2 linked regions of the Homo sapiens genome follow. The protein of the gene in region 1 purifies or fractionates together with the protein of each later gene. This does not show direct contact. Each region holds a gene or a part of one and is shown in the gene's direction. Other genes may lie near its edges.

What was found.
Region 2: the proteins of NR5A1 (region 1) and SMARCA5 purify together in Homo sapiens (co-immunoprecipitation; one study listed by IntAct). This does not show direct contact.

What each region holds. Positions count from the first base shown.
Region 1 is NC_000009.12:124,490,303-124,494,116, reverse strand, and holds part of NR5A1 (steroidogenic factor 1), read left to right. Parts: intron 1-967; coding exon 968-1,087; intron 1,088-2,888; coding exon 2,889-3,036; intron 3,037-3,814. UniProt on the Homo sapiens protein: Transcriptional activator. Essential for sexual differentiation and formation of the primary steroidogenic tissues. Binds to the Ad4 site found in the promoter region of steroidogenic P450 genes such as CYP11A, CYP11B and CYP21B.
Region 2 is NC_000004.12:143,527,146-143,530,959, forward strand, and holds part of SMARCA5 (SWI/SNF-related matrix-associated actin-dependent regulator of chromatin subfamily A member 5), read left to right. Parts: intron 1-722; coding exon 723-878; intron 879-1,437; coding exon 1,438-1,569; intron 1,570-3,312; coding exon 3,313-3,381; intron 3,382-3,814. UniProt on the Homo sapiens protein: ATPase that possesses intrinsic ATP-dependent nucleosome-remodeling activity.

The sequences.
Region 1 (3,814 bases):
GGATGGGGCTGTGTCTGCCCAGGCCCATCTGCAGTGCCCAGTGTGCTTCCAAATACCCAGAAGGGCTCGTTTTGTCACAGTGGAGATTGTGGACCGGGAATGCCAGCCGTGGCCCTGGCCTGGCCCTGCCTCTGTGTGATCCCGGGAGAGTCTCTTGCCCTTTCCGGGTGGCGGATTCCTCAGCTGAAAAATAGGGATTGGGGCCAGGGGATCCCTGGCTCTGCTTCTGAGTCCTGCAGAGTCAAAGGACACTCCAAACAGGGGCTGGCCCTGCCCCTGCACCGAGTGTCTCTGGCCGCAGCCTGGGCATTCGGAATCAGCCCCTTGTTGCTGTTCGTTTCTGCTTCATGTGCCAGGCCATTGCCGCCCCCCTGCTCATGCCCTGGGCCTGACCTCAGGCCAGGTGGGACCTCCCTCCTCCTCCTGAGCCTGAGAGCTCTGCGTAGGCCCGGGGGGGAAGCCCTTGGTTTCTCCCTCATGGCTCCTGTTTGAGCAGTTGGGGCTGCCAGAGGTGTGACCGACCACAGGCTTTTAAATGTGGACAAGGTTAAAATTAATAATAACCTTGCCAGGCATTTGTAGGAGTCCTTTGCAGAGCACCTGCATGGACATTAGTCACTAACATGTATGGCATACCTAACATGTACTGGACTGTCCGCTCAGTACTTTGCCCACTTTACAGATGAGAAAACTGAGGCACAGAAAGGTTACCAGGACTTACGTAAAGTCATACAAAAGACAGAGGTGGGGCCTGAAGCCTGGCCCATTCAACCCCCAAACATCCCTTTGTTAACTGGCCAGACCTCTGTTGCACTTTGATAGCCTAGACATCTGGGTAGATGGGCACAGAGAGGTTAGCTTGCCCAGGCTGCACGCCTAGTTGGGTCTCAGTGGGAGGAGAAGGGGTGAGAGGAAGGTCCCTGGACCCTGGCTGGAGCCCGGCCCCCCGCGTGCCTCTTCCTTCCAGGTGGCCGACCAGATGACGCTGCTGCAGAACTGCTGGAGCGAGCTGCTGGTGTTCGACCACATCTACCGCCAGGTCCAGCACGGCAAGGAGGGCAGCATCCTGCTGGTCACCGGGCAGGAGGTGACCAGTCCCTCGGCCCCGCCCCTGGGCCCCGCCCTGGCCCCGCTGTGCACTTCCAGGATTCAGGGCCCCGGAGAGGAGGACCCAGGCCTCTCGGGGCTGGCTCTGGGCACCCTAATTATCAGCCCTTTCCCCACGTTCATGGAACACCCACTGGCCCAAACCCTCTGTGAGCAGCCCTGGCCCAGGCTTGAGAGGCGCCGGCCCCTGGGAGCCCTGCTCTTGGGGAGCAGCTCAGGGGGTGTGGGCATGGTGAGGAGAGGCTCATGGAGGAGGAGGTGATGGTGGCCCTGGGTCTGGAAATAACACACTGGAGTTGGCTGGGGAATGAGGGATGAGGGGGGCAGTCCCCACGTCTACCGCAGGCTCAGAGAGGGTGGAAGTGTGGAGCCCCCGGGCCCTGCTGGTGCCGGTGTGGGGGTGGCATGAGGTGAGAGATGAGGGAGGCTAGGGGGTTGCTAGTGCTGGCTTAGCAGGCAAACCTTGCAGGCCCTAAATCTCGAATGAATGAATGAATGAATGAATGGGCAAAGGGCTCCAGAGAGCTCAGAGTCGGAATTTGGGCCCCCTTAGAGCAGGGAATGAGGATCTGGGGAGTAGAAAGTCCAGATGCAGCAGGGGTCCGGGGAGAGCTTTAGGAGGAGGAGGGACATGGCCAGGTGGTATCTGAGGAGGCAGGCGGAGGGGTCAGGATGGGAGGTGGGGGGCCAGGGTGGGGACACGGGGGCACAGCCACGGAGGAAGACTCACCTGGAGAGATGGGCTGTAGGGAAAGAGAGGGAGGGGGGGAGGCAGAGAAGGGGGTTGATGGCCAGGGTCCAGCCTGCTGGCAGGAGTGCCACTCTCAGGTGGGGACACAGGAAGGGCCGTGGGGTCGGTGGGTGCTGTGGGGTGGGGAAGACAGACTCTGCTCCCAGCTCCAGCCCTCCCAGGCCCCCACTGCTCATCTCCAGCTCTCTCCTCGGTGTCACAGGCCATCGGGGCAGGAGGACGGGACGGGCAGCACTGGTCCCAGGGGGGTGTCTTTGGGGCTCCCTGTGAGCGCAGGTGCCTGCAGTCTGCATGAAGTGTGGGTGTCCGCAGGCTGGCTGAGTCTCTGTGGCCATGGGAATGCCTGTTTGTGTGTGTGTGTGTGTGTGCCTGCCTGTGTTTTATTGTGCAAAATCTCCACACACATCAGTGTGTGGGTGTCACTGTCTTCCCATCAACCCGTAAATGTGATCACATACATGGGTGTATGTGTTGCCGTGAGTGTGAGCGTACAAGGGCGGGTGTGGCCGTGTGCACACGTGTGTGCCTTCACTTCACAGAGTGGGCGACCCCATGACTGTGCTCGTGTGTGTGTGTGTGTGACTCTGAGCTGAGCTGTGACCCAGCGTGTAGGTGTGAACATGGGGGCTCTGGGAAGCCATGTGGATGTGTCTGTGTGTCCCCACACAGGCCTGCCCTCCCCAACCCCTCCCCTCCCAGCATGTAGAGGGGCCCCCTGAGCTGCTGGTGCTGCTGGGCCTGGTGCTGGGGTTTGTGTGTGAAGGAGGGGTGGACGCGGGCAGAACGTGGGTGCCTCAGCTCCGGGCTTGGCGGGTTGAGGAGAGCTCGGAAGGGTGGGCCCGGCAGCGTCCCCGGGGCTGTGCAGATGTTACCCGTGCCTGGCTCGGCACCAAGGCTGGGCCCTCCTGACGCCAGCCCATCTGACCTGCACCTCCAATCCATGCCCTCAGCCCTGCATCCCCCATCAGAGAGCCACCTGCCCGGACCCACGTCCTCTGACTGTCCCCCGCCCCGTGCCCTCTGCCCCCAGGTGGAGCTGACCACAGTGGCCACCCAGGCGGGCTCGCTGCTGCACAGCCTGGTGTTGCGGGCGCAGGAGCTGGTGCTGCAGCTGCTTGCGCTGCAGCTGGACCGGCAGGAGTTTGTCTGCCTCAAGTTCATCATCCTCTTCAGCCTGGGTGAGTGCAGCTCCAGTGACAGAGAGGTGGAGACAGCCAGAGGCGGGTGGGTGGGAGGGTGGGTGAGGCTGGAGAGGTAGCCCTGCTGTGGCCAGAGTGGCCACGAAGGAGCCTCGGGGAGAAAGGACCCCTCCCTTACTCATTCAGTGAACAAAGGTCTGAGGGCCCCCGGCCAGGGCCTGGCTCTTAAATGGGGGCTGCTCCCGCTCTGGTGGCCCATGTGACTTTAGGATTTTTATTCCAGGCTCCCATCCTGGGGTCCCTGTTTTCTCTAATCCCTGGATCTAGGGGGCCCCAATTTTGACTGTACCTCCTGGGGGCCTGGACCCCTTTGCTCATGCACACGTGCATCCATTCATTGACTCTACAAACAGGCACCGAGAAATTGCACTGGAGAAGGCACTGGGAATACCGCTGTGAGCAAAAACCCCCCAAGCCCAGCCCTTGTGGTACTGACCTTCTCTAGGGGAGACAGATCATGAGCATAATATGATTAGTAAGACGTAGGTTCCTAACACGATTAGGCAGGCATAGCCAGGAAGGTTGTGACCAGTGCTAAGGAGGAAAAGAAAGCAGAGGAGAGGCAGAGAGCAGGCCTGGCCCAGCCCAGCCCGGCCACCCACCTCACTCCCCAAGCACTTGGGGGGTCTCCTTCCCGTTGCCCTCCTGACCCCAACCCTGCCTGGGCCACTCCAGTCTGCACCCTCACTCCCTGGAAAGCCATCACAAATGCCCTCCCCATGCCCAGAGATGCTGAGGACATAGCTGTCCCTTGCCA
Region 2 (3,814 bases), on another chromosome or scaffold:
TAACAAAATAAGTTAAAATTTCGATCAGTTGACAACATCCTTGTGGGAAGAAGAGATGGAAATAATGACATTAGTATATAAAGCTCAGATTTGGAAATTTATTCAGACTCTACTGAATAGCTGTGTACTTGTTTTTTATTTCCTCTTCATTTACCTGTGAGTGATAAGTCTATATTTTTCTCTCCCTTTCTAGTTATGTTGGATATTTTAAGTTATCAATTTTTGTTTGTTTGTTTGGGAGCCCAAAGAGTGGTAATTACTTAACCAGTCTTTGCTTCAGTTTCCTTACCTTTAAAATAATACTATTAGGAATGTGTTAATACATTTATAAACCTGAAAGGAATGCAGATGCCTACTACTGCTAACTATCTTTCCACCCTCTTCCTTTCTTTATGTTAAAACCTCCCTCTTTTTTGTCTAAACCTGCCTCCTAAGAATTTCCCGATCTAGTGGAATTGCAGAAAGACATTTTAAGTGTCTATTGAATTTTTCACTGGTTAACTTTGTCAGTTTTTTAAAACTTAATGGTTCTGACATTTAAATGATTAATGACGTTACTTTAGTCTTAGGAAAGCTGGTTCTAAACGTTTGCATAATATAGCTAGCTACTCTACTCCTTTTTAGTATTCCCACCTCTTTTTATATACTAGATTACTTGTCATCAGTAAATGTAATGCGTAGTTTATTTCTACGTGATGTAATTTTTTTCTCTTGTTACACAGGCTGCTTTTGTCAGAGACGTTTTATTACCGGGAGAATGGGATGTATGTGTAACATCTTATGAAATGCTTATTAAAGAGAAGTCTGTGTTCAAAAAATTTAATTGGAGATACTTAGTAATAGATGAAGCTCACAGGATCAAAAATGAAAAATCTAAGGTAATTTGATACTTAGATGTGAAAAGCCTTCATGTAAGAATTTGATTAAAGTACAGATTTTTTTTTCTTTTAACTTTAAGTTATGAGATACATGTGCAGAACGTGCAGGTTTGTTAACATAGGTATGCATGTGCCATGGTGGTTTGCTGCACCCCATCATCTAGGTTTTAAGCCCCGCATGCATTAGGTATTTGTCCTAATGCTCTCCCTCTGCTTTCTCCCCACTCCCCGACAGGTCCTGGCATGTGGTGTTCCCCTCCCTGTGTCCATGTGTTCTCATTGTTCAACTCCCACTTATGAGTGAGAACATGTAGTGTTTGGTTTTCTGTTCCTGTGTTAGTTTACTGAGAATGATGGCTTCCAGCTTCATCCATGTCCTTGCAGAGGATATAAACTCATTCTCTTTTATGGCTGCGTACTATTCGCTGATGTATATGTGCCATATTTTCTTTAACCGGTCTATCATTGTTGGGCATTTGTGTTGGTTCCAGGTCTTTGCTGTTGTAGATAATGCAATATGCAGAATATTCTAATGGTGTATTTGGTTCTTTTCTTTCAGTTGTCAGAAATAGTGAGGGAATTCAAGACTACAAATAGACTATTATTAACTGGAACACCTCTTCAGAACAACTTGCATGAGCTGTGGTCACTTCTTAACTTTCTGTTGCCAGATGTGTTTAATTCAGCAGATGTAAGTATTTCCTGGTGCTTTCTGGTTAATAATAATATTTTGCTTAATGCTATATATTTTTGTAATAAAAGTGGCCTGCCTTTTAGCATGGCTTGAGGTTATTATTAATTTTTTATGCTTTTATTTACATAGTTAGCCTGGTGTTATCTCCTAGGTTGTCTCTGTATAATGGGAATTTACTTTTGTGCCTTTGGTTTCAATCTTATTTCATTATTATTATTATTATTTTATTTTTTTTGAGACGTAGTCTCACTCTGTCACCTATGCTGAAGTGCAGTGGTGTGATCTTGGCTCACTGCAGCCTCCACCTCCGGAATTCAGGTGATTCTTGTGCCTCAGCCTTCCGAATAGCTGAGATCACAGGTGTGTGCCACCATGCCCGGCTAGTTTCTGTGTTTTTTGTAGAGATGAGGTTTTGCCATGTTGTCCAGGCTGGTCTCAAGCTCCTGGCCTCAAGCGATCTGCCTGCCTCAGCCTCCCAAAGTGCTGGGATTACAGGCACGAGCCACCACACCAGGCCTCAGTCTTCTTTAAATCATTGTTTTCTCTATCTGAAATGGCATAAATTGTCACTCCTATTTGGTAAGTCAGGTTGGCCTGACTTTGTTTCAGTGGCTCTAGGTTGACTGGTTATGTTTTTAAGGTGCTGCTCAAGGTATTCCTGAAGTGATTTGTATACCTCACATTGCTTATGTTTTAAGTCCCAAGGATGACTGTCAAATTTAGTGAAATCTGTCTGGCTTTTCTTATATTATAGTCTAACAAACAAATAGAACCTAATCTTTATGGATTATTTATAGTCATAGAAAGGATAGTAATGGTTAATTAGCTATTTGAACTGTTAATAGTAATATAATAACTATGTCAAGAGTTTGTGCTATTAGAAATTGCAGTTTTTTTTGCCTGGACCAGTGTTTATTTTTGAAGCTTTGTTTGCATAGCTGGCGTCTTATGTGTATTGGAGGGATTTGAAGAGCTCCATGTTAGTATATTTTTGTACAATTAAGTTATAAAAAGGTATTAATTAATTTTGTTTTTTTTCTGTTGAAGATTGTTTTGAAAGAATAGATTGTGTTGTAAAAAGATATTTAATCAGACTCCAAAAGCAATTTTAGCTTCGATTTTATGTATTTTGATGTTTTTGAGATAATTCCTGTTTCTCACTACATTGACACTTTCATTTACTTTAAAGCAGTGAATTCTAAGATTATGTTTACTCAAAAACAAAGCACATATATAATACATATGTTCAAGAGATGAGGTTAGGGAAACTGCCCTTGTTGAAATCGTAACCAAATATTAATGAAATGCTGGTAATTTCAATTTCATTTAGTAAGTTTGATTAAAATTGACATTGTTCGTAAACTTGTATTTGAGTAGTGCGAATGGTCTCAGAGAACAAACTATAAAATGTTTTAATTTTCAAGCTTTTATGAAACTTGAAAGATACTTTACAAGAATATTAATTTTCTAATCCTATAGAACTTGCTCTCCAACTTTTTACTGTGAAACTTGTTATTTTGATGTTTTTGAGAAGAATGTTTAGAAGGTAGTGTGATTTCTGAACTACTTGTTTTAAAATTAGTAACAATGACACATGAAAACCAGGATTGGACTAAGTGATTTTTTTTTGTGGGTTACAATTCAAATTACTAATTCTAGAAATCATTTCTATATCTGGTATTATAGGGTATTTGTTAATATTATCTCTGATCTGAGTATATTTTTTGTTTGTTTATCTAGGACTTTGATTCCTGGTTTGATACAAACAACTGCCTTGGGGATCAAAAACTAGTTGAGAGGCTTCATATGGTAAGTATTTTGGAGTAGTGTTAAAGCATATTTATGATGGGAAAAAGGATAAAGGTTTAAATTAGTAGATTATTTTCCTGTTAATAAAAAACACAATGGCTTAAGAATCAGATCTGCTTGAATTCTGACACTTAACTCTTACATCTTACAATCAGTGTAGGGGGTGATGTGTGGTTGTTTCAGTGTTAGAACCTAGAATGGAATCCTGACTTAAGGGAGAAAGTATTCTCTTACAGTTATACAAAATACAGTGGGGGGAAGAAGAATTGCATAATAATTAATATAGACAAGTTTTTGTTGTTGTTTTTGAGACAGTCTCACTTTGTCGTCCAGGCTGGAGTGCAGTGGCATGATCTTGGCTCACTGAAACCTCTGCCTCCCAGGCTCAAGCAGTCTCTCCCCATTCAGCGTCTAGAGTAGCTGGGGCTACAGG